7 linked regions of the Homo sapiens genome follow. The protein of the gene in region 4 purifies or fractionates together with the protein of the main gene of each other region. This does not show direct contact. Each region holds a gene or a part of one and is shown on either strand. Other genes may lie near its edges.

Evidence for each region.
Region 1: the proteins of LIN9 (region 4) and HBS1L purify together in Homo sapiens (affinity purification with mass spectrometry; 2 studies listed by BioGRID and IntAct, with this or other methods). This does not show direct contact.
Region 2: the proteins of LIN9 (region 4) and SLMAP purify together in Homo sapiens (affinity purification with mass spectrometry; 2 studies listed by BioGRID and IntAct, with this or other methods). This does not show direct contact.
Region 3: the proteins of LIN9 (region 4) and CHD5 purify together in Homo sapiens (affinity purification with mass spectrometry, with the first as the bait; one large-scale study listed by BioGRID). This does not show direct contact.
Region 5: the proteins of LIN9 (region 4) and DIS3L purify together in Homo sapiens (affinity purification with mass spectrometry; 2 studies listed by BioGRID and IntAct, with this or other methods). This does not show direct contact.
Region 6: the proteins of LIN9 (region 4) and SMARCA5 purify together in Homo sapiens (affinity purification with mass spectrometry, with the first as the bait; one large-scale study listed by BioGRID). This does not show direct contact.
Region 7: the proteins of LIN9 (region 4) and TMOD3 purify together in Homo sapiens (co-immunoprecipitation; one large-scale study listed by IntAct). This does not show direct contact.

The regions. Positions count from the first base shown.
Region 1 is NC_000006.12:134,981,823-134,985,322, reverse strand, and holds part of HBS1L (HBS1-like protein), read left to right. Parts: intron 1-2,760; coding exon 2,761-2,865; intron 2,866-3,500. UniProt on the Homo sapiens protein: GTPase component of the Pelota-HBS1L complex, a complex that recognizes stalled ribosomes and triggers the No-Go Decay (NGD) pathway.
Region 2 is NC_000003.12:57,759,309-57,762,808, forward strand, and holds part of SLMAP (sarcolemmal membrane-associated protein), read left to right. Parts: intron 1-3,500. UniProt on the Homo sapiens protein: Associates with the striatin-interacting phosphatase and kinase (STRIPAK) core complex, forming the extended (SIKE1:SLMAP)STRIPAK complex.
Region 3 is NC_000001.11:6,121,322-6,124,821, reverse strand, and holds part of CHD5 (chromodomain-helicase-DNA-binding protein 5), read left to right. Parts: intron 1-160; coding exon 161-305; intron 306-714; coding exon 715-874; intron 875-3,248; coding exon 3,249-3,328; intron 3,329-3,500. UniProt on the Homo sapiens protein: ATP-dependent chromatin-remodeling factor that binds DNA through histones and regulates gene transcription. May specifically recognize and bind trimethylated 'Lys-27' (H3K27me3) and non-methylated 'Lys-4' of histone H3.
Region 4 is NC_000001.11:226,267,665-226,271,164, reverse strand, and holds part of LIN9 (protein lin-9 homolog), read left to right. Parts: intron 1-3,074; coding exon 3,075-3,208; intron 3,209-3,500. UniProt on the Homo sapiens protein: Acts as a tumor suppressor. Inhibits DNA synthesis. Its ability to inhibit oncogenic transformation is mediated through its association with RB1. Plays a role in the expression of genes required for the G1/S transition.
Region 5 is NC_000015.10:66,331,568-66,334,398, forward strand, and holds the end of DIS3L (DIS3-like exonuclease 1), read left to right. Parts: exon of another isoform or gene 1-301; intron 302-307; coding exon 308-453; intron 454-1,168; coding exon 1,169-1,343; intron 1,344-1,436; coding exon 1,437-1,745; 3' UTR 1,746-2,331; downstream 2,332-2,831. UniProt on the Homo sapiens protein: Catalytic component of the RNA exosome complex which has 3'->5' exoribonuclease activity and participates in a multitude of cellular RNA processing and degradation events.
Region 6 is NC_000004.12:143,523,702-143,527,201, forward strand, and holds part of SMARCA5 (SWI/SNF-related matrix-associated actin-dependent regulator of chromatin subfamily A member 5), read left to right. Parts: intron 1-665; coding exon 666-766; intron 767-1,749; coding exon 1,750-1,850; intron 1,851-2,579; coding exon 2,580-2,759; intron 2,760-3,500. UniProt on the Homo sapiens protein: ATPase that possesses intrinsic ATP-dependent nucleosome-remodeling activity.
Region 7 is NC_000015.10:51,836,153-51,839,652, reverse strand, and holds part of TMOD3 (tropomodulin-3), read right to left. Parts: intron 1-3,500. UniProt on the Homo sapiens protein: Blocks the elongation and depolymerization of the actin filaments at the pointed end. The Tmod/TM complex contributes to the formation of the short actin protofilament, which in turn defines the geometry of the membrane skeleton.

The sequences.
Region 1 (3,500 bases), on a different chromosome or scaffold from region 4:
GTGCTTCTTCAGTATAGCCCCTTTTCCCCATTCCCTCCTAACCTCCTTTCCTGGACTAAGTTATGACAGTATATTGCCTTCAGAGTCTCTCCTCTCCATGCCCAAGTAAGGATCACTGTCAGATTAATCTTAAAATGCACAGATTTAGTCACTTAGCTTCCCTGTCCAGGAAAACCTTCAGTTTACTCACCATTTCTCATCTTTCAAGCATAAGAAAACCTTGCCTTTTGTCTTTCTAACTTTATAGTTTTTTTTTCTCCCATTAGATTCCTTTAGTTTTCAAATCCTTCAACCAAACTGGATTGTTTATTGTTTCTTAACCACACAGGATGTGTTTATTGCCACATGTCTACCCGTGCTTCCCTGTTGTATTGTTCTTTCTCTTTACTTGTCCATTTCCTCCCCATCTGTAACAGTCTGGGTCCAGTTAGGAGTTAGATACCATACATAGGTGAAATGGGAAATGTAATATAAAGAATTATTAACTATGATAAAAATGCAACTAAAAGATATACAGAAACTTTATAGATAGGGCTGAGGAAGGACCAACGTAGAAGAGGTTCAGAGCTTGCTGGAAGAGATGATATATTAAATACCTAAGAATATATCTAACTTAATAAGGGCAAGATCCTATATAGAAGACTATAAAGTGGAAATACAATTTAAAAACTCAATAAATAAAAGGATATAAGATTTATTATTACAATAATAAAAACTGTAAGGATGTCATTTGTCCTCTAAATCTCCATTGTCACAGAGCCAGCAATGCAGAGTGAATGTGGAACTGAGCAGCAGTAAATTGGTAACCGGCGTGCTTACCTGCGCACATGCCCTGACGCGTCCCTCTGTATTCTCTGTATCCTCTGTCATTGTGCTTTCATGCAGCATTATAATTTTTTCTATGCTGTCTGTTTATCCCACTTAGATTATGAACTCCTTGAAGGCAAGTACTATCTCTTCTTTATCTATATCTGCGGCCCTAGCCCAGTGCCTGGCACATAATACATTTAACACATGAATAAAAAAATGAATGAATGAAGGTGCTTTGAAAAAATCATGCAATGAAATCAAAATTTATCATTATCATTATTAGCTTCCAGTGTTCTAGTAATAGAGGAAATATGCTAATAGTTTCCAAGATGCCCATTGTTTATCAAGAATACAAGAGGTGGTTACTTTTCTTTGATTAACAGTGTTTGCTGACTGTACTTTCTCACCTTCTGTTCCCCCTTCAGGCTGCTTCCTGGCTTCCGCCTACGCTGCTCTCCTGAGTGTGTTCCTCCTGAGGTCATGAAATGACCTCTTGGTTGCCAAAGTCAATATACACTTTCAATTCTATCTTACTTGAATTTGGCATTGGTTCTGATGCTGGTAGCCACATCCACCTTGAAACTCCTCCCTTGGTTTCTGTGACCTGCTTTCTCCTGTTAACCTGTCTATTTCTCTGACCTGTCTATCTCTGACCTCTCTATATCTTCTCTATGGGCTCCTCATTCTCTGTCTTTTAAACAGTGTTCTGCTGCCTCAGTCCTCTTCTTAGTCTTCAAGTTCCTTTTGAACTGACATCCATGAGTGTCTCTACCTTCTGCATCTTGATGCTTCCCAAATCTGTATCTCCAACCCAAACCTTTTCACTCATTCTCCACACACTTGTCTAAGCACTACTGGACATCTCTCCTGGGAGAGTGTTCTTTTAGGGGTACCATTCTCATGGAATGTGGTGTGATTGGTCCCCCCGGAATGCAACTTCTGCATGTGTGTGTCTCATAGACACTTCAGATTTACCAAGCCTAAAATGGATCTTGTCCTTAGTTTCATATCTCACAGTTAATGCATCATCATCTCACATTTTCCCCTTTCTGTCATTAGTCTTCACTTTCCTTACCACTCCAAACTTGTTATTCCTTATTCCCGAATTCTTGAGTTTATTCCCTTTCTGTAGTAAGTTTGTGCATTTGTATCAGCCTCTACTCTAAGACAGAAATACCATCACCTTACTTCTCCGGTCACAATATTTACTGGCTTCCTATTACTTAACTGCAGGATGAAATTTAAACCCTAAGCGTGATTTATGAGACCCCTTTATTATTTCTCCCTTGCCTATCTCTGTTGCCTCCTGTCTTACCTTTTCTTCATTATTCTATATGGTCCCCTCCCCATGGCCCCCACAAGTGACACATGACTCTTAGCCCATCCCACATTTGGTTATGCCTTTGCCCACACAGTTTCCTGGGGCAGCAGTGTCTTCCTTTTTCTCCCTACTCATGCATACAAGCTACCTAATAAACACTTATTCCTTCTTCAGAGTGCCAGATGTCTATTCTCACCATCATGGATTCTTTGGTGCACCTTTGTGTTTCTATTGTATATTTTACATATTATTTGTCTCAGGACAATGTAATTGTTTCCATCTTTCTCTTCACTAGTATAATATCTTTATGGGCAGGGACTTACATTTTTATTTTTTTTTATCCCCAGAGTTTAGTATAATATCTGGTACTACGTATTTATTATTTCTCAATAAATATTTGAGAAAGGAATGAACCTTTCTTTGGTAATATGAGTATTTTTATTTGCAAAAAAAAAAAGTAAAGTGTGGTATGCCATATTTAGTAGAGATGTTAATTCTGAAATGATTATTATTTAATGTCCATTGAACTACTAGTTTTATATGACTACTTGAGAACTAAGTATAGTTAACGGTATTAATCATCAGATAACATTGCTGTATGAACCATAAGATTTTGGTATGTTTTGCAGATCAAGGATCTGGATTTTGCATAACTGGTAAAATAGAAGCTGGTTATATCCAAACTGGTGACCGACTACTGGCAATGCCTCCTAATGAAACTTGTACCGTGAAAGGTATTTATCTGCAAGATGCTTTTGCTAAACAAGCCTTAAGTTGAGACAGCAGATTTTTAAAAAGTGGTTTAGTTACAACTCCAAAGTAAGTAACCTCTTACTGAAATTGTAACTGACTGTCAAAATGATACTGACTGTTGAAGATTAAAATGTGAAAACATTAAACGATTTTTTTCTGTTGTGATTGTGTCTGTATATATATGTACATAAACATTCTAACTGTAGTAGCATTCTATTTTTGACACAGATCTGAGAAGCCTGGTTAGGATTTAATCAGATATGTATAGATACCTCACAGATGTATTTGGAATAATATTCTGTAGCAGAAATTAAATCTAGTCCCAGCCTTACCCTAACTAGTCAGTGGCAAAGCAGCCTTCTACAGTCTGTTACTTTGAAATGTATGTTTCAGAATAACTATAAATTAACAGCTTTGATCATGTTTATGCCAAAAATGTAGGTATATTTTATAGGAAGATATAAGTAACATTCAAATGGAGAAAAACCCAATGTTGAAAAGAGAAATTGAACTAGTTTAAATTGCCAGTCACTGTTTCTGCATATAGATCTAATTTTTTTCATAATGACTGATAATTGTTTCTGTCTTCTAATATATACACACATATATATATTTA
Region 2 (3,500 bases), on a different chromosome or scaffold from region 4:
CTCCTGTCACCCAGGCTGGAGTGCAGTGGCGCTATCTCAGATCACTGCAACCTCTGCCTCCCGGGTTCAAGTGATTCTCCTGCCTCAGCCTCCAAAGTAGCTGGTATTACAGGCACACGCCACCATGCCTGGTTAATTTTGTATTTTTAGTAGAGACAGGGTTTCACCATGTTGGCCAGGCGGTCTTGAACTCCTGACCTCAGTTGATCCACCTGCCTCAACCTCCCAAAGTGCTGGGATTACAGGCGTGAGCCACTGCACCTGGCCCTCATAATTCTTTAAAATGAATATTCATAGAACTCATTTTTCCAGCAGTTGAATTCAAACATCAGTTTACTACTAAGTAGTGCCTTAACTCAACCAGCTTTTACATTTTCACCATTTTATGTTCTTGGGCAACAGGTCTAAACTAATCAGACAACAGGTTGGCTCACAGTACATACTCTGCGAATGCACTTTCTTTGATGAAACACTCGAAGGGGACTCCCATTTTTTGTTTTACTTATTTGAAAAATACTGATTTCATGCCCAGTGCTTTCCATGGCTGTACTAAAACTCTCACAATAGGTTATTTTGAGATAACTAAGAATAGGTCAGTAGTGACTGTTTCATGAATTGAGATGACATGTTAATATTTGTTTTTTTTCTTTGAGATGGAGTCTCGCTCTGTGGCCAGGCTAGAGTGCAGTGGCGCAACCTCAGCTCACTGCAACGTCTGCCTCCTGGGTTCAAGCGATTCTTGTGTCTTAGCCTCCTGAGTAGCTGGGATCACAGGCGCATGCCACCATGCCCAGCTAATTTTTATATTCTTCGTAGATACTGGGTTTCACCATGTTGGCCAGGGTGGTCTTGAACGCCTGACCTCAAGTGATCCACCCTCCTCGGCCTCCCAAAGTGCTGGAATTACAGGCATAAGCCACCACACCCGGCCATGAAATTAGTTCTTCAGAAAAACTTATCTTTGAATGGTAGATATGGCTTATTTCTACCATTTTCACTTTTTTCCTCCTGCTTTATTAGCTAAAATAACACGCAGGCTATGAGACCACTACTTTAGATATAGATGTAATTATTGATTATTATACCACTTAATCTAGTTATAGCGGATGCTCTGTCAGATCTTACCATGTCATTGAATTGTTTTAGGAATTAACTATTTAAAGTTTTGGTTTGGACAGATAGTAGGTTTTAATTGAGCATCTATTATGTGCCAGACACTGTGAGGGATACAGTTCCAAAGAAAACCCACAGTGCGACCAAATAGTTCTCGTATGAAATTTGCAGTGTCTGTAGTCCCACCTACTCGGGATGCTGAGGCACGAGGGTTGCTTGAGCCCAGGAGTTTGAGGTTGCAGTGCTGTGATTATGCCACTGCACTCCAGCCTGGGTATCAAAGCAAGACCCTGTCTCTTAAAAAAAAAAAAAGAATCCCTTCAGAGAAGGAGTTTCGTTCTTGTTGCCCAGGCTGGAGTGCAATGGCGCGATCTTGGCTCACCACATCCTCTCCCTCCTGGGTTCAAGTGATTCTCCTGCCTCAGCTTCCCGAGTAGCTGGGACTACAGGCATGCGCCACCACGCGTGGCTAATTTTGAGTTTTTAGTAGAGACAGGGTTTCTCCATGTTGGTCAGGCTGGTCTTGAACTCCCAACCTCAGGTGATCCACCCACCTCAGCCTCCCAAAGTGCTGGGATTACAGGCATGAGCCACCGCGCCCGGCCAGGTTTTTTTTTTTTTTTAAACATCTGGGGATGATAATGGTACCTATTATTGTTTTGAGAATTGAGGTAATTATATAAATCACTTAGCACCCTGTCCCTGGCTCTTACTAAGCACCCAATACTCAGCAGAGAGGGTGTTTAGTGGGGAAGAGGGAACTATTTAGACAACACTGTGCAATTTGCTATAGTGCTATGGAGTCTTAGGAAGGTGATGAGAAATTATTTTCTTTAATGTGATGGCATATATAGAATAAATTTTGTTTTTGTTTTTGTTTTTTGTTTTTTTGAGACGGAGTCTGGCTCTGTCACCCAGGCTGGAGTGCAGTGGTGCGATCTCAGCTCACTGCAACCTATACCTTCTGGATTCAAGAGATTCTCCTACCTCAGCTTCTCAAGTAGCTGAGATTACAGGCATTCATCACCATGCCTGGCTAATTTTTGTATTTTTAGTGGAGACAGGGTTTCACCATGTTGGCCAGGCTGGTCTCAAACTCCTGACCTCAGGTGATCCACTTGCCTCGGCCTCCCAAAGTGCTAGGATTACAGGCATGAGCCACTGTGCTTGGCCAGAAGAAATTTTTAAAATTGAAACTGATGTAGTTGATAACTTTGTCTAAATTGGCAGTTTACCTGGGCGGTCGACAATTGGGGTAATATGTGCTTTGGGTGACTTTCACTTTGTGGTGACTGTTGCATTCTGCATTGTCCATTATGGGAGGCTCATTAAAAGTTGGAAGAAGGCCGGGCGCGGTGGCTCACGCCTGTAATCCCAGCACTTTGGGAGGCCGAGGCGGGTGGATCATGAGGTCAGGAGATCGAGACCATCCTGGCTAACAAGGTGAAACCCCGTCTCTACTAAAAATACAAAAAATTAGCCGGGCGCGGTGGCGGGCGCCTGTAGTCCCAGCTACTCGGGAGGCTGAGGCAGGAGAATGGCGTGAACCCGGGAAGCGGAGCTTGCAGTGAGCCGAGATTGCGCCACTGCAGTCCGCAGTCCGGCCTGGGCGACAGAGCGAGACTCCGTCTCAAAAAAAAAAAAAAAAAAAAAGTTGGAAGAAATAGGCCAGGCTTGGTGGCTCATGCCTGTAATCCAGCACTTGGGGAGGCTGAGGCAGACGGATCACGAGGTTAGGAGATCGAGATCATCCTGGCTAACACGGTGAAACCCTGTCTCTACGAAAAATACAAAAAATTAGCTGGGCATGGTGGCATGTGCCTGCAATCCCAGCTACTCGGGAAGGCTGAGGCAGGAGAATTGCTTGAACCCGGGAGGCGGAGGTTGCAGTGAGCTGAGATCGCGCCACTGCACTCCAGCCTGGGTGACAATGTGAGACTCTGTCTCAAAAAAAAAAAAAAAGTTGGAAGAAATAATAAACACTTGAAACTTTATGATTATTCAAATGATACATGTTCATTTTAGAATATCTGCAAAATGTAGGCAGGTGGAAATCTAAGTGACACTTTTTAATGCTAAGCTCATGGAATATCTTATTGTATAATACTTAAATCTGCATGTTGAAGGGTGACAGGTTTGGCACAAAGCAGAGTTTCATAATCTTTACCAAATCATCTTCTCAGTAATGTAGCAGTTGGATATTGCCTTGTTGGATGCTGGCCCTGTGTATTATCCTTCATCCTTTTCGGAAGTCAAGCTCTTCAAATTAGATGGCAGATAGTAGAATGGTTTTTTTTTTTTTTTTTTTTTTTGAGCCGGAGTCTTGCCCTGTCTCCCAGGCTGGAGTGCAGTGGCGCAATCTCGGCTCACTGCAACCTCTCCCTCCT
Region 3 (3,500 bases), about 220 Mb from region 4:
AGGCCCTCTCTGTCCTTTCCCGGGCCTGGCCCAGGCCTGACTAGGAGGTGGGCGATGGTTGAAGATCAGCCAGGAGTTCCCCTGGGGTCCTGCCAGCCCTCTCAGAGGGTTCTTGCCGGCCCCCCACTCCCTGAGCCCCAGTCCCCCCCCCCCACCCCAGAGCCTATGTGTCCCTCTTCATGCGGCACCTGTGTGAGCCGGGGGCGGATGGTGCAGAGACCTTCGCAGACGGCGTGCCCCGGGAGGGCCTCTCCAGGCAGCACGTGCTGACCCGCATCGGGGTCATGTCACTAGTTAGGAAGAAGGTGGGTGAGTAACTCTCTGTAGGGCCCTTCCTGGTGGCTGCCTGGGCTCCTGGTGCTGTCCCTTGTGGGTCAGTGGTCAGAGAACAAGTGCCTGGTTCAGGCCACACAGCTGCCCAGGGTCCGAGTCACTCCAGAGGGACTGACCTGGAAAGCCTTTCTGGGTGAGGGGCCTGTGGGGTGGAGGCCAGGATGGTGGGTTACATACAGTTGGAGGACACACAGAGGGTGGGAGGGTGGGCAGGGGAGCTTGTGGTCAGGAGGGGCCTGGCTTGGCCAGCCTTGGGCGGAGGTAGCAGCTACCCCAAGCCTGTGACACTTTCAGCCCCCCTGGCTGCCCTGAGGCCCTTAGGGCTGAGTTGCCACCACTGCCCTCCCTCTTTCCCTTCCACCTTCCCTCCCACCACCCCAGGTTCAGGAGTTTGAGCATGTCAACGGGAAGTACAGCACCCCAGACTTGATCCCTGAGGGGCCCGAGGGGAAGAAGTCGGGCGAGGTGATCTCCTCGGACCCCAACACACCAGTGCCCGCCAGCCCTGCCCACCTCCTGCCAGCCCCGCTGGGCCTGCCAGGTCTGTGGGCTGGGCGGGCCGGGGAGGGCACTGGGGTCATGGAAAGTGGCAAGGTCACAGAAACCCCTAGTCTAACCCACAATCCCACAGAAGACGGCCTCTCCTTCCCCCAAAGCCTCTGTTTGCTGAAATGTCACTCTACAGAGAGTTTTCCATTTTAATGACAGTTACGAGATATAATTTATATACATACTGCAAAATTCACTCTTTTAAAAAACTGGCTGGGCGCGGTGGCTCACACCTGTTAATCACAGCACTTTAGGAGGCTGAGGCGGCAGGATCACCTGAGCTCAGGAGTTTGAGACCAACCTGGCCAACATGGTGAAACCCCGTCTCTACTAAAAATACAAAAGATTAGCCGGGCATGGTGGCACGTGCCTGTAATCCCGGCTGCTCGGGAGGCTGAGGCAGGAGAATCGCTTGAACCTGGGAAGCGGAGGTTGCAGTGAGCCAAGATCACACCACTGCACTCCAGCCTGGGGGGACAAAGCAAGACTCCATCTCAAAAAAAAAAAAGTACTATTCAGTGATTTCTAGTATATTCGTAGGGTGTACAACCATCGCCACTGCCTAAGGCCGGAATATTTTCATTCCCCCTGAAAAAGAAACCCTGTACCCATTAGCAGCCACTCCTTATCCCCCCACCCCAGGCCTGGGCAGCCACTAACCTGCTTCCTGTTTCTGGATTTCGCAATGCTGGATGGTTCGTGTATATGGCACTGCACAGTGCGTGGGCCTTTCTGTCTGGCTTCTGTCACTCAGCCTGGGGGTTCCAGGTTCATCCACATTGCAGCGTGCATCAGTGCTTCAGTCATTCTGTCATTCTGCCTTATGGCTGATAATGTTTTCTTTTTCTTTCTTTCTTCCTTTTTTTTTTTTTGAGATGGAGTTTCGCTCTTGTTGCCCAGGCTGGAGTGCGATGGAGTGATCTCGGCTCACTGCAACCTCCGCCTCCCAGGTTCAAGCGATCCTGCCTCAGCTTCCCGAGTAGCTGGGATTACAGGTGCCCGCCACCACACCTGGCTGATTTTTGTATTTTTAGTAGAGACGGGGTTTCGCCATGTTGGCCAGGCTGGTCTTGAATTCCTGACCTCAGGTGATCCACCCTCCTCGGCCTCCCAACGTGCTGGGATTATAGGCGTGAGCCACCGCGCCTGGCCGATAACGTTTTCTTGTATGAATTTACTGCATTTTGCTTATCCATTGCGCTGTCGATAGATTTTGGATTGTTTCTACTTTTTGGCTGCTGTGAATAATGCTGCTGTGTTTTATGTTTTTGCGTGGACATACGTTTTGAGTTCTTTTGGGCAGATATCTAGGAATGGAATTGCTGGGCCGTGTGATAACCCTGTTTTCCCTTTTGAGAAACTACTAGACTGTTTTCCAAAGCAGCTGTACCATTTTACATTCCTGCTAGTATTGTGCGGGAGTCCCAGGTTCTCCACGTCTTCAGCAGTAATTGTTCTCTGCCTTCATGGTTCTAGCTGTCCTGGGAGCATGAGGTGGTGTCTCACTGTGGTTCTGATTGGCATTTCCCTGATGCCAAGGACGCTGAATGTTGTTCGGTGTGCGTATTGGCTGTTTGTAGACTTGTAGAAATGTCTTTTCAGATTCTTTGCACACTTAATTGGGTCATTTGTGCCCGTGTCACTTTGGTGATCTAGGTATTTATTTGGGTGAAGCAAATACCTGTTAAGTACTTGGTCCGTCGGTTGGGCCTCACAGGCCTGGGGCGGACATAGCTATCCCATGGTGATGGGTGAGGCCAGGCCCTGAGAAGCTGCACCTCCAAGCACAAGGGAGCCCTTGGAGGTGGACACATCTTGGTTTGCTTCTTGGCTTTGGCCTGAACTCTGTCTAACCTTGGGCAAGTCACCTAACCTCTGTGGGCCTCCGCTTTCCCGGCTGTGCCCACCTCCCGGGGCTTCTCAGAGCTGTGTAAGTGACCAGCACTTTGCAGTGTGTTGGCGGCTGGCTTGGCAGGGAGGAAATTCACCCCCTGTCCAGAGGCACACACCAGCCAGCCCGCCCGAAAGCTGGGACCAGAGCGGGTGTCGTGGCTCCCAATCTGGGCCTCCATCTGCCTCACTTCCCTGCCTCCAGATGAGCAGCCACGGCTGTGTGCGGCCCCGTCCTGACAGCCCCTCACTTTGGTCTTACTGGGTTCAAGGTCCTCCAAGCACTCCTGAGTCAAAGGCCTGGCCTGGCCTCTCTGACTTAGCCGGGGATCCTGCTTGTCTCTCCTGGAGGTGCTTGGCTGCAGTGGAGCCTCCCGAAGGCCAAGCCCCCATCTCTCCTCTCTGCCACCCCACTCCCTGCCCTACTCCTTCCCGTCTGAGCCCACCTGTCTCAGCTCTTTCCCTTGATCTTTCAGACAAAATGGAAGCCCAGCTGGGCTACATGGATGAGAAAGACCCCGGGGCACAGAAGCCAAGGCAGCCCCTGGAAGTCCAGGTGTGGAACTTGCTGGCGTCTGGGCCTGTGGTGTGTGTGGGGTGGAGGTTGGGTCTGGGGACCTTCTCAGGCCCTGTACAGCGAGGTGGAACCCAGGCCTCCTGGCTCCCTTTTCGGGGCTCTGAATCGGCGGGGAGCAGGCTAGGAGCAAGCGACGGGAGCCAGGAGACTG
Region 4 (3,500 bases):
ACATGATACTTTAGCTACAGTATATAGAAAGTTGTTTGAGACGTCATACTTAAGCCACAGTTGTTTACCCCTGGAGAAATGAGAGTGTTAAAAAAGATATTAAAATCATTGATTTGTTAAGAAATTATAAGAATCTGAACTATCCTAAAAGTAATCTTTGTAAAATGAACGATAATTCCAGGTTATCTGGGATTTTCTGTAGGTTATCTAAAGGAGTAAATGGAAAAGAAATAAAAAAGATTTTATTTATCAAATAAATTTTTCAAAAAACAGAAATGAAGAGAATAGGAAAAAAGTACATACATACACAAACCTTTTTTTTTTTTTTTTTTTTTTTTTTGAGACAGAGTCTTGCTCTGTCTTCCAGGCTGGAGTGCAGTGGTACTATCCTGGCTCACTGCAGTCTCTACCTCTCTACCTCTTGGGCTCAAGCAATCCTCCCACCTCAGCCTCCAGGGACTACAGGCACATGCCACCATGCCTGGCTAATTTTTTTGTATGTTTTTGTAGAGATGGGGTTTCACCATGTTGCACAGACTGGTCTTGAACTCCTGAGCTCCAGCGATCCACCCTCTTGGGCCTCCCAAAGTGAGCCACCACGCCCAGCCTACTTTAATTCTTTGAACATATTTATAACAGCTGCTTTTTTAAGTCTTTGCTAAATATCTCTCTCAATTTCTTACTGTACTTTTCTTAAGAGCCATGCTTTCCTACTTCTTTACATGTCTAGTAATTTTTGGTGGAAAACTTGATATTTCAGATAATATATTGTAGCAACTATGTATTCTAATTTTTTGGAGAGTTGTTGGATTTGCTTTAATAACTTGGCTATGCAAATACTGATGTCTCTGCTTCATTTTTTATTCTTATATTTATTATTATTATTAAACTTGATTTCCAAAGAGTTACCCCTGTGTCTGCATATAATTTAGTGGTCAGGGCTGGGTGCGGTGGCTCACGCCTGTAATCCCAACACTTTGGGAGTCTGAGGCGGGCGGATCACCTGATGTCAGGAGTTTGTGACCAGCCTGGCCAGCATGTGACACCCTGTCTCTACTAAAAATACAAAAAAAAATTAGCCGGGTGTGGTGGCGGGCACTTGTAATCCCAGCTACTCAGGAGGCTGAGGCAGGAGAATCACTTGAACCCGGGAGGTGGAGGTTGCAGTGAGCGAGATCGTGCCACTGCATTCCATCCTGGGCAACGGAGCGAGACTCCCATCTCAAAATAATAATAATAATTTAGTGGTCACCTAATGATTTGAACAGAGGTTATGCTCAAACATCTTGATCGGGAAAAGCCTCACATTGATTTATATGTGAGTTGGGGAATGTAAATACAAAGTTGCTGCTAGTTTTCAAGTCATCCTTAGCTTTTACTTTTTGCCAGACTATTGGATCTTCCCCCTCCATTTGCATAGTAACCCAGTTAGCCAGGGATGGTAGAGAGCTTATTTCCGCCCTTTTATGGCTCTCTAGTTTCCATGATCTCCCTGTTAAATTTCTGGCTGTCTTTCATGACCAGTCAAAATTCTGGCTGGTTTTCGTGACCAACCCTGAACTAATAAAACCATTCTCATCGACCACGTTGGTGGTAGTAGTGGGTGTGTGAATAACCTCGTGCAAAGAGGCCACTGAGTCCCCCTGCCCTAACCTGAAGCTCTAGCACTTCTTCAACAATAAACGTTTCTTGTTTTCTACATTTGATCCATTTCCAGTACCCTGGAATGGTTGTTTTTCACAATCTCATTCAGGTTTGTACTTGTTTTTTGTGGAGAGGAATTACCAGCCTCTTCATGCCACCATAACTAGTAGTCCTTTTCTATGCTTATATTTGTTTACTCAGCTTCATTATTTACATCTTCTGTATCCATGTTTACTTTTCCCTTAAAGGATCTGTCAGAAACTGAGAGAGATTTTAGTCCTCTACAGTTGTGTTTTTATCAATTGATCCTTTTATTTTAAACAGTCTTGCATTGTGTATTTCTGTGTTCTATTAAAATGTTGTGTATTATACTTTTTGGTTAGTATAAAATGTATTACTTTGCCCAGTTTACAGCCATCAATGCTGTTGTTCTTAAATTTTTTACTCATGCTGGATGTTTGTTTGGATTTCTCTGATGTTATTTTAGGCTGGACTTAAATAATAGTGACACAGTTCATCTGTGTCATCAGTTCCAAGACTACTAGTTTTGGTGATTCACTAGAAAGACTCAGAATACTCAGCACATGTACTCATGGGTAAGATTTGTTACAGTGAAGGACACAAAACAAAATTGGCAAAAGAATAAGGTGCTTGGGGCAAAGTCCAGAGGAAACCACGTGCAAGTTTTCAAAAGTCCTCTCCCAATAGAGTCATGCAAGACTTTTAATTCTCCCAGAAACAAGTTGTCACAATGCTTATAAGTGTTGTCTACCAGGGAAGCTCATTAGAGACTCAGTGACCAGAGTTCTACTGGGGGCTGAGTATGTAGGCATCTTTTGCCTAGTACATACTAAAATTCCAGTCTTCCAGAGGGAAAGCAGGTGTCCAGCATTAACCACATCGTTTGCACAATCTAGACACAGTAAAACCACCATTATTAATTAGGGAACAGTGGGAACACTTCCGAAATCCAAGTTCCCAGATACCAGACAAAGGCCAACCTTGCAAGGAGGTTTTCCTAAGTATAGCAGCATCAGGCCTGCAGTATTAACTTCTTTAATTATTTTCTACACAACATCTTTGTCTTTTTTTTTAAATTGAACTACTCCTGGTGCTTCACTCATGAGTATAATGACCAAAGTTCTTTTGTTGTTTTTTTTGCAGTTAAATGATTTAAAATATTTTTCTCTTAATTTGGGAGTAATATAATTTTATTCAAATATGAAATTAGGGATCATCATTTATAGTTTTTGTTTTTGTTTCAAAAATTCTTTGTTGTTTCTCTAAGCCAAAAATAAAGTGTGTGCTTGTTTTGAAACTCTAATAGACAAAATACTGTACTATGATTTAAATTACATGCTTGGAACAGTTTTATATTTGACTATTCTTTGTATCTCCCACACATCATAATGCCTTTGTTCTTTTCTCAGCACGATTACGTGGTGTTCATGATGGTTTGTTCACTGGACAAATAGATGCTGTGGATACTCTTAATGCTACTTATAGAGTAACTTTTGATAGGACAGGGCTTGGAACCCATACCATCCCTGACTATGAAGTTCTCGTAAGTAGTATTTCATAATACATTTGTGTTTTATGCCTGTTAAATGTGTTATATAGAGTTTTTTTAGAAATCGTATTTTATGATAGAATCAAGACTTTATCTCACAGAGGAAGAGATCCTTAGGGGACCCCAGCCCTATCTGCTAGACCCCTGGTTCGGATCTATACTTAAGTCTTCCATTTGCCAGGAACTAGCATTTCTCTGTTGGACCTTAACGACACAGCACTTTAGTATAACCAAACTGATGAGTCCTGACTAAATAACCTTGGAGAAGAAGCTACATAACATTTTC
Region 5 (2,831 bases), on a different chromosome or scaffold from region 4:
GAAATGCAAGTAAGACATGTGTAATACTTTTCCTGTACCCAAGGTGAACATGACCCAAATTTGCTGATCTCTAATTTCATGAACTATAAATGGGTTTCATTTTATAAAATAATTCATTTTCTAAGACATTTTTGAGGAGATAATACTAGATGGTTAAGTTCCCACAAAAAGTAATTTAATTTCATAGTAGAGAACAATTTTTATATTAATAGTTTTACAGAATCTCACATTTGAATGAATATGAATTTCGTTTCTTTGGGGAATGCCAGGGGAGTGTTAAAATGCTTTGGAGTTGTGCTTCTTACAGGCAGCACAGCATTCTCAGAAGCAGTCTACTGAGCTCTTCCAGTGCATGTACTTCAAAGACAAAGACCCTGCCACCGAGGAGCGTTGCATATCTGACGGAGTTATTTATTCAATTAGAACAAATGGTGTGCTTCTATTTATACCAAGGTATGTTACATCTAATGCAATGGTGCATAAGAAATCATAGTTAAAAGTGTAGAACACAAACTGTACATTAGATATAATTTATTAAAATATTTAAGCAACTAGTTATCATATGTACATAATGTAATGTATAATTCAGTATATAAATGTGAAGATTGGAGGCCAGGGGTGGCTCACGCCTATAATCCCAGCACTTTGGGAGGCCAAGGTGGGCGGATCACCTGAGGTCAGGAGTTCGAGACCAGCCTGGCCAACATGGTGAAACCCCGTCTCTACTAAAAGTACAAAAATTAGCCGGGCATGGTGACGCATGCCTGAAATCCCAGCTACCTGGGAGGCTGAGGCAGGAGAATCACTTGAACCCGGGAAGCAGAGGTTGCAGTGAGCCAAGATCGTGCCACTGCACTCCAGCCTGGGCGACAGAGCAAGACTCTGTCTCAAAAAAAAAAAAAAAAAGTGAAGACTGGAGTGTGTGTGTGTGTGTGTGTGTGTGTGTGTATATATATACACACACACTTCTATATCCATTTTAGGGTCTTTCTTATCCAGCAAAATACTTTGTTTCCATCTGCTAAGGTGAAATAAATACGTGGAGGTAAACCACAGGAAAAGTGATTTGTTTTTAATCTAGGAGAAAAACTAGTATTCTAGATAAGCATACAAGATCTGTGTACTAAGAATACATTGTCTCTGGATTTATATTCTGGTCATAATATAGGTTTGGGATTAAAGGTGCTGCTTATCTAAAAAATAAAGATGGTTTAGTCATCTCATGTGGCCCAGATAGCTGTTCTGAATGGAAACCAGGATCCCTTCAACGATTTCAAAACAAAATTACCTCTACTACAACAGATGGGGAATCTGTTACGTTCCATTTGTTTGACCATGTAACCGTAAGTCTGTGTTTCTATTAAGTATTATTAATATTTTAAATGTAAGGAATAAATAATGTGATTTAGTAATATGTATTTTCTTCTCTATGCTAGGTAAGAATATCCATACAGGCCTCACGTTGCCATTCTGATACAATCAGACTTGAAATAATTAGTAACAAACCATACAAGATACCAAATACAGAACTTATTCATCAGAGTTCCCCCTTGCTGAAGAGTGAGTTAGTGAAAGAAGTAACTAAATCTGTGGAAGAAGCTCAGCTTGCCCAAGAAGTCAAAGTAAACATCATTCAGGAGGAATATCAAGAATATCGCCAAACAAAGGGAAGGAGCCTATACACACTTCTAGAGGAGATACGGGACCTAGCTCTCCTGGATGTTTCAAACAATTATGGAATATGAGAGGCTCTTACTTCACTAAGAGCTGTCATATGTGAATGTTTTACAGTCTTTTCAAACTTAACATTTAATGTGTGTCACTCAGTGCTCTAGTCGATCAGGACTGGGTAGCTATTTCGCATATATGTAAAATGTTCTCAGCCGGGCACGGTGGCTCACGCCTGTAACCCCAGCACTTTGGGAGGCTGAGGCGGGCGGATCACGAGGTCAGGAGATTGAGACCATCCTGGCTAACACGGTGAAACCCAGTCTCTACTAAAAATACAAAAATTAGCCCGGCGTGGTGGCATGCGCCTGTAGTCCCAGCTACTTGGGAGGCTGAAGCAGGAGAATTGCCTGAACCCAGGAAGAGGAGGTTGCAGTGAGCCGAGATCGCACCACTGCATTCCAGCCTGGGCAACAGAGCGAGACTCCATCTCAAAAAAAAAAAAAAAAAAAAAAAAAGTTCTCTCATTCATTAAAGTTGCATTAAATAAAGTATAATTAGGTCACTATGGAAACAGAGTTTTCAGTAATGAGTGGACAGTAAGTGGTGGCTCTGCAGATGGCCCCTTTCTAATAAGTTTAATAAACCCGAAATTACTGGTTATCTCGTCTCCAATCAGTTCTTTCAAATGTTTTATTTTTCCAGTAATTACGTTTGGGTCATAGGCCCCTCTGACATTTGTCAGGTAATTTTCAGTCACTTTCAGATAATAAGACTTAGTCCTGAGTCCACTTCTCCACTTAAAAATTCCTATTTCATATTTGACTCAACCCTTACCTGCTGTCTCCAGTACTAGCTGGGATTAGGACACAGGGCGGGTGGTAGGATGCACAGGTAAAGTTCTGTCACAGGCCTTCCTTCCCACTCTCCCATTTTGATGAGGTGCATTGGCCTTCCCCTTGTTGGAAACTTGTTACTTTGCCAGCAAACACCCCACTAGAAAAATTAACTCTAGGCCGAGCGCAGTGGCTCACGCCTATAATCCCAGCACTTTGGGAGTCCGAGGCGGGTGGATCACAAGGTCAGGAGTTCAAGACCAGCCTGGCCAAGATGATTAAACCCCATCTCTACTAAAAATACAAAAATTGGCCAGGGACAGTAGC
Region 6 (3,500 bases), on a different chromosome or scaffold from region 4:
AAATTAGATTCAGCGGTCTCAACAGAGGCATAACGTGCCTTTTTCTAAATAAGATGAAAATATTTGTTGAAAGTGTCAGAATTGGGGAGTAAGTATTAATAGTTTTACTGAACCAAGCCCTTTAGAGATTAATTGGCAGTATTAAAACTTTAGAAAATCAGTTTTTAAGGGGGTAGTATATCTGATTCTCTTAGGATGTAGAATTTAGATGTGTATTTAAAAATTTTTTTGATGAATCCGTGGTCACTGCTTAAATTTCTGAGTCCTTATGCTGCAGCTTTTGCTCGAAGTTACAATTTTAAACATGTGGTTTCTGGAACTTTTTTTTCCTTGGCAAAAAGATTTTTAAAAAGGTACACTTTAAAATTCAAATAATGAGATTTTCTGACTACATAGTTCTTGAAATTTGACTATCATATTTGAGTTTATTGGGTTCTGGTTAATGTATCGTACTGGTGTATTTTAATAACTAATGTATATTTTAAATAATTATTTAAAACATTGCAGATTTAAATGTACTCATATTTTCTACTGTCCACTGGTTGATGCCTGTTAAAAATTTAATTTTGTGGAATCTTGGTCAGCCACTTGACTATGATGTTTAAACAGTAGCTGATAATTAAAGCCAAAACTCAAATCAGGTTATTTTATTTTCATCTTAACAGTTACCGACACCGTAGAACAGAGCAAGAGGAGGATGAAGAGCTATTAACAGAAAGCTCCAAAGCAACCAATGTTTGCACTCGATTTGAAGACTCTCCATCGTGTATGTTAAACACACTTGATTTTTTTAAAAAATTGCCCTTTGAGATCTCCTTTGGTTAATGTTTTGGATTTGTGTTGGCTACTATTTGTGAAGCAAATTTTTAGTAGTCTTAGATGTTTATTGGTTATGAAATAAACTTCAGATTTTGATGGAGATGAGAGCATATTACAGGATAGTAGTGCTGTATTTCAAAGTTATATAAAATGTCATTGTGTTTGTTATTGCCCTGAAGTATATGTAAATCTAAGGATCGTTTTGCTTTATATTTGTCCCACATAAGAAAACTAATTTATTTTAAAAAAGGTACTTCATGAACACATTTGCTTACTTCTGATGTTTTTATATTAATTTAATTTTTTGTGAAATGTATTTGTTTATTGGTTAGCTTTTTATCCTCAAGTGTTTTTCAAAAGGAGATGGAGGGCTACACTGTGTACATATTAAAAAAGAAAAATCAGGTGACCGTTATGTATATTTGGTAATTATTCTGGGGAGCAAAATAAGTAGTATACCCTGAAAGAGAGTGCATTGGAATGTATAAGATATATTGGACAAGTAACTTAGGAATTTCCTATTTCTTTTTTTTTTTTTTTTACTAGAAAGAAAATAAAATCCCCAGATAACCTGTATCTGGTCTTTATGAAAGCTGAAAATACTTGGTTAGGAACACTTGGTTTTTCATTAAAAAGACGAGAGGCCAAAGAGTCTCTCAGACCAGTATATGGGTAACGTAAGAACTGAGTTGTTGGAGTGGGTACTCTGATGCCCGCAGTCATGTTTCCCGCACTTGATTATCTTCCATGTCCAGCTTTTCCACTTCAGACCATGGCAGCTACCTCTAGTATTTTGGAACTTGCAGAGTTCCTATTCAAGAATCCGTTAGTAATGAAAATAAAGTCAGTAGATATGTGTAGGCTTAGATGAAGAGATTGCCTTGTATTTCTTGTCTTAAAATGCCTATTGTGCTTTTCTTTTGTTCTTAGATGTAAAATGGGGTAAACTGAGAGATTATCAGGTCCGAGGATTAAACTGGCTCATTTCTTTGTATGAGAATGGCATCAATGGTATCCTTGCAGATGAAATGGTATGTGTTGGTAGTTTTTTTTGAAGGGTATGTTTTGTATTGAAAATATCTTATACGTTGATAAAAGTTTCTTACAGTCTACAACTGTTAGCAAATGGATCCTCTCAGAAACTAGTATAAGCAGCTTGCCTTAGTTGCATAAGTGTGATCTGTATTTTAATTGTGAGAAATTTCCATCGCTGAAAATATGATAAATTTAAAAAGAATACATTTGAGAAACATGTTTTTGGATGACTTTTATAGTACAATGATTTATTTGCTTCCAGTTTTGTAAAACAAAAGTGAGGTCATTAATTGTTTATAATTGATAAATGTTTTTTCCAGGTGGTAGCTTGTACAATTCTTAGAAAACATTTATCTTTTGTTAACTACTAGTTATGTAATGAATGTTTAAAAAAGTTTCCTTATTGCTATAATGCTAAAACGTTTAATTGGTTGGAGAAAGTATGAAGTCAAAAGAAATGTGTTTCAATGCTAGCTCTGCTAGATGACTTTGGGAATGTCACTTAAACGGGGCCTTATGCGGGTGATAATAATACCTCCTTTAGAGACTTGTGAAAATTATATGACATAACACTTACAAACTTTGATATATGTTAAGTTTTTGCCATTTATTAACTGTTATAAATATGTAGCATTTCTTTTGAACATTTCTATATGTTGGGAGGTATAATTGTGAAATAATATTTTCATTTTTCACTGCTTCATGGTTATTTTGAAATCTTTCAGGGCCTAGGAAAGACTCTTCAAACAATTTCTCTTCTTGGGTACATGAAACATTATAGAAACATTCCTGGGCCTCATATGGTTTTGGTTCCTAAGTCTACATTACACAACTGGATGAGTGAATTCAAGAGATGGGTACCAACACTTAGATCTGTTTGTTTGATAGGAGATAAAGAACAAAGAGTAAGTTTCTAGTATTTCATTACATTTTTGAGGCTAAAATAATTTGAATTCAGGCTTGGGTATGGGTATAGCTGGAAGAAGGATAAATGAGACGGGATCTTCGCAAATATTAGTATTTACAAATGTAGCATTGTCTTGGTGGATAAAAAACAGCACTTTGGGAGGCCGAGGCGGGTGGATCATGAGGTCAGGAGATCGAGACCATCCTGGCTAACACAGTGAAACCCCGTTTCTACTAAAAACTCAAAAAATTAGCTGGGTGTGGTGGCACGCATGGCCTGTAGTCCCAGCTACTTGGTAGGCTGAGGCAGGAGAATCGCTGGAATCTGGGAGGTGGAGGTTGCAGTGAGCCGAGATGGCGCCACTGCACTCCAGCCTGGGCAACAAAGCAAGACCATCTTAAAAAAAAAAAATCATACTGGGAAGAAGACATTAGAAATGGTAGAAAGCTGTAAGACTGTAGTTTGTTTCTCTCCCTTTTGGGAGTGGTTGTATAAAATCATTGGTTGTGCTCTCATTAGAAGTTATTTTCTTGTTTTTAAAAGATATTTTGAAATGTGAGTTGGTTGGAAATTTAAGGAGCCACATTTTTAGATGAATGTGTGTAGTGGTAATAGTCACAGAATTAGAGTTTTTAAAGACGGGTTGAGTCATATATAGTAATTTGGTGATTTATTATGATATTTAACAAAATAAGTTAAAATTTCGATCAGTTGACAACATCCTTGTGGGAAGAAGAGA
Region 7 (3,500 bases), on a different chromosome or scaffold from region 4:
ATTGTTTGAGCTCAGGAGTTCAAGGCTGCAGTGAGCTATGATCACACCTGCACGCCAGCCTGGATGACAGCGAAAGCCTGTCTCGAAAAAAAAAATTGCTCTGAATTGACTATTATACCTAAAAGTTAATCCTAATGGTCAAATGGCAAGTCATAGGAATAAATAGACACCAAATAAGAGAAGACTGAGTGTGGTGGCTCACCTCTGTAATCCCAGCAATTTGGGAGGCCAAGGCAGGAGGACTGCTTGAGCCCAGGAGTTTGAGACTAGCCTGGGTAACATAAAGAGACCCCATCTCTATAAAAATTACAAAAAATTAGCCAGGCATGGTGGCACGTGCCTTTAGTTCCAGCTACTTGGGCAGCTAAGGTGGGAGGATTGCTTGAGCCTGGGAGGCGGAGGTTGCAGGGACCTATGATCACACCTGCACTCCAGCCTAGGCAACAGAGTGAGACCCAGTCTCAAACAAAATGGAAAAAAAAAAAAAGAGAGATACACCTATTTCTTAGCTGTCAATCTGCCAGATGCAGGGAACATACCAAAAAAGAGAAGGCATGGTCACTTCCTTCTGACATCAAAATAAGCATGTTTTGAGATGAACAACCCCAAACCTCCTTGTGTGGGGGGACCCACCCCTTATTCCAGTCCCTGTGAAATATACAGCCAAAGAAACAACATAACAAAGCCACATCTTTCACAGCTGTTTGGTACAGGGGTCACCACTCTCAATCTAACCAGGACGGATCAAATTCAATTCTTCTCCAGAAATCTGGAAAGCTGGGAGACAAAACTCAAGTTGAGACATAAGGTATCACCAAGTCTGGAGGCACTACCATAACAAGCTAGTCACCTTGAAGCTGAAGCTAAGGGGAAAGCACAGAAGGTCAGTCTGCAGGGAAGAGAATGAAGCAGGGCTGGGGCTACAGGGAAAAAGTAAAGGAGGCACCTGCCTCAGGGTGTCTCAGTATTTAATAGGGTGCAAAAAAGCTCAGCAATCAAGATAAATTACACAGTAATGCATACTATTTTTTAAAAATTAAAATTAATGTCCTAAAATGGAGCAGAGGCACAGAAAGAAGCCAAAGAGAGCCCTACAAGCAGAGAGAGGACAGAGACTTTCAAAGTGTCTGCTCTGGGTACCAGTGGTAGGTCATTTCACGGACCTCAGCAGCCTTACAATAGTAATGCAGTACAACTCCCAGCTCTGCCACCATACCATCTAGCAAGATAGCTTAAGTGGGTTTGTGTTCCCGGAGACCTAAACACCTTGACTAACATACTCTATTTGGGAAAATGAGACATGCACATAAAGTGCTTTTTGTTTTTTTCAAGAAAATATATAATTAACTGCCAAAAGAATGGTACTGGCTATTAGTGTACAGAAATTCAGAGATCACTGTGGGTGGTCAGGGAGGGACAGAATTAGCTACACAGAGAGGAGTGGAGAAGTATATACTAAACAAAGAGATCAAAGCACAGGCTGAAAAAGGTTGGAGCTGGGAGGGAATCCAGGGCAAGAAGAAGAAAAGTAAAGGGAAAGGAGCGATCTTCACACACCCTGTGTTACACAGAAGTAAGTACGCCTCCATGCTCTTCCGCCTGCAGCCCTTACATCACACGGTTCATTACACAGGAAATGTCCTTTTGCACTCTTTCTCATGTTCAAATCCTTTCACATCTTTCAGGGACCAGTTCAAGTAACATTTCTGCAGAGGCTCCCCTTGTGTGCTATACCAGATTCAGGCAGTGGGAGAAGAAAAGAGGAAACAGTTTCTTCTGAGGTAGGAGGGAAGGCTAAGGGGCTTAAAGCAGTGCCAGCTATTCTCTGGTGGAGGGCACACTATATCACTTGGAATGCTGGCCAATGTCTAAGGAAAGCAGGAAGTGAGATGACTTGACAAGGAATAATAATGGGGGTTCAAGAAAAGTGGCAGAGGAAAGGCAAGCACAGAGGGTGTGCTGAGGACTAACAGAAGAGCCCACCTGCCCCGAAGGCCTTGCAGAGGTGAAATCCTACACATCTGCCTTGGTCCATTTCTGTGTAGGGTTCTGTAATTTTTCACCAAGAAACTGTAAATCTTAGGGACAACAGGAGAAAAACAAAAGTGGGGTGGGCATGACTTTGAAATCATCACATATTTATTGCTATTTCCAGTGAAATTAGACCCCCAACTCCTCAGCTGGTCTAGCACTCAAGTGGGCACATTAAAGAGGAAAAAAAAAAAAAAGAATAGTTCCCTAAGAGTATTAACCTGGGTTAATTATAGCCCACCATGAATGAAAATAAATCTTGGGGGTTGTATCATATCTTGTCACGTTTGCCTCAGGGTAAGGGCTGCCTGAATATAAGCCAGACTCATATACATTTGAGGGGCTTCTTCTGAATATTCCTTAACTCCTCATCAAAGTTTTACCACCACACCCAGGGAATGAAAATATTTTGTTGGCTGTAATTTTCCACATGGATGGAAATCCCCTACTGTATAAGTATCACTAATAATATCCTGCTCAAAAGAATTGCTATGCTATGGTTAAGGAAATACAACAATCTTCTTACCTACAAGTCTATATATATATATATCAAACCCAGCCCTCATTTTCTTCTAGTTTACCATGTTTTTATTCACTTTCTCACAGACACTTCAGGAACTGTGTTCACTTGTATGTACTTATCATGATGTTCATGCTTAGTTATGCCCAGATATGAAACTGTTTATTTGTAGGGGGTTATCATCACTGTATATGTTACCTTAGTTTGTAAGTTTGTCTTAGTGTGTTTGTGTTCCTTCCTTAGTGAGTGGGTGCAGGTGTTGAACATATATACCCGAGGCAGTGGATATCTTTATAGCTCAAAAAGGGTGCACATCTCAGGAGGAACCTTGACTGTATTTCAGTATTTTTCTTTTTTCTTTTTTCTTTTTTTTTTTTTGAGACGGAGCATCACTCTGTCACCAGGCTGGAGTGCAGTGACATGATCTCGGCTCACTGCAACCTCCACCTCCCAGGTTCAAGCGATTCTCCTGCCTCAGCCTCCCGGGTAGCTGGGACTACAGGTGTGTGCCAACATGCCTGGCTAATTTTTGTATTTTTAGTAGAGACGGGGTTTCACCATGTTGGCCAGGATGGTCTCGATCTCCTGACCTCGTGATCCACCCGCCTCAGCCTCCCAAGGTGCTGGGATTATAGGCGTGAAAACGAATTCTTAAGAGTAGTATAAGGGTGAAAGAAGCCAGGCACAAAATATGACATATTATATGATTCCATTTATATGAGATGTCCAGAAGAGGCAAATCTTAAGAGAGAGTAGATTAGTGGTTGCCTAGGGCTGGGTGGGGGAGACCAGGGGGGAATTGGGAGGAATTAGGTAGTAACTGCTAATGGTAAGGGGTTTATTTCTGGTGTGATGAAAATGTTCTAAAATGGTGGTGATGGTTCTACAGTTCTGAATGTAGCAAAATCCACTGAACTGTACACTTTAAATGGGTGAATTGTATGGTGTG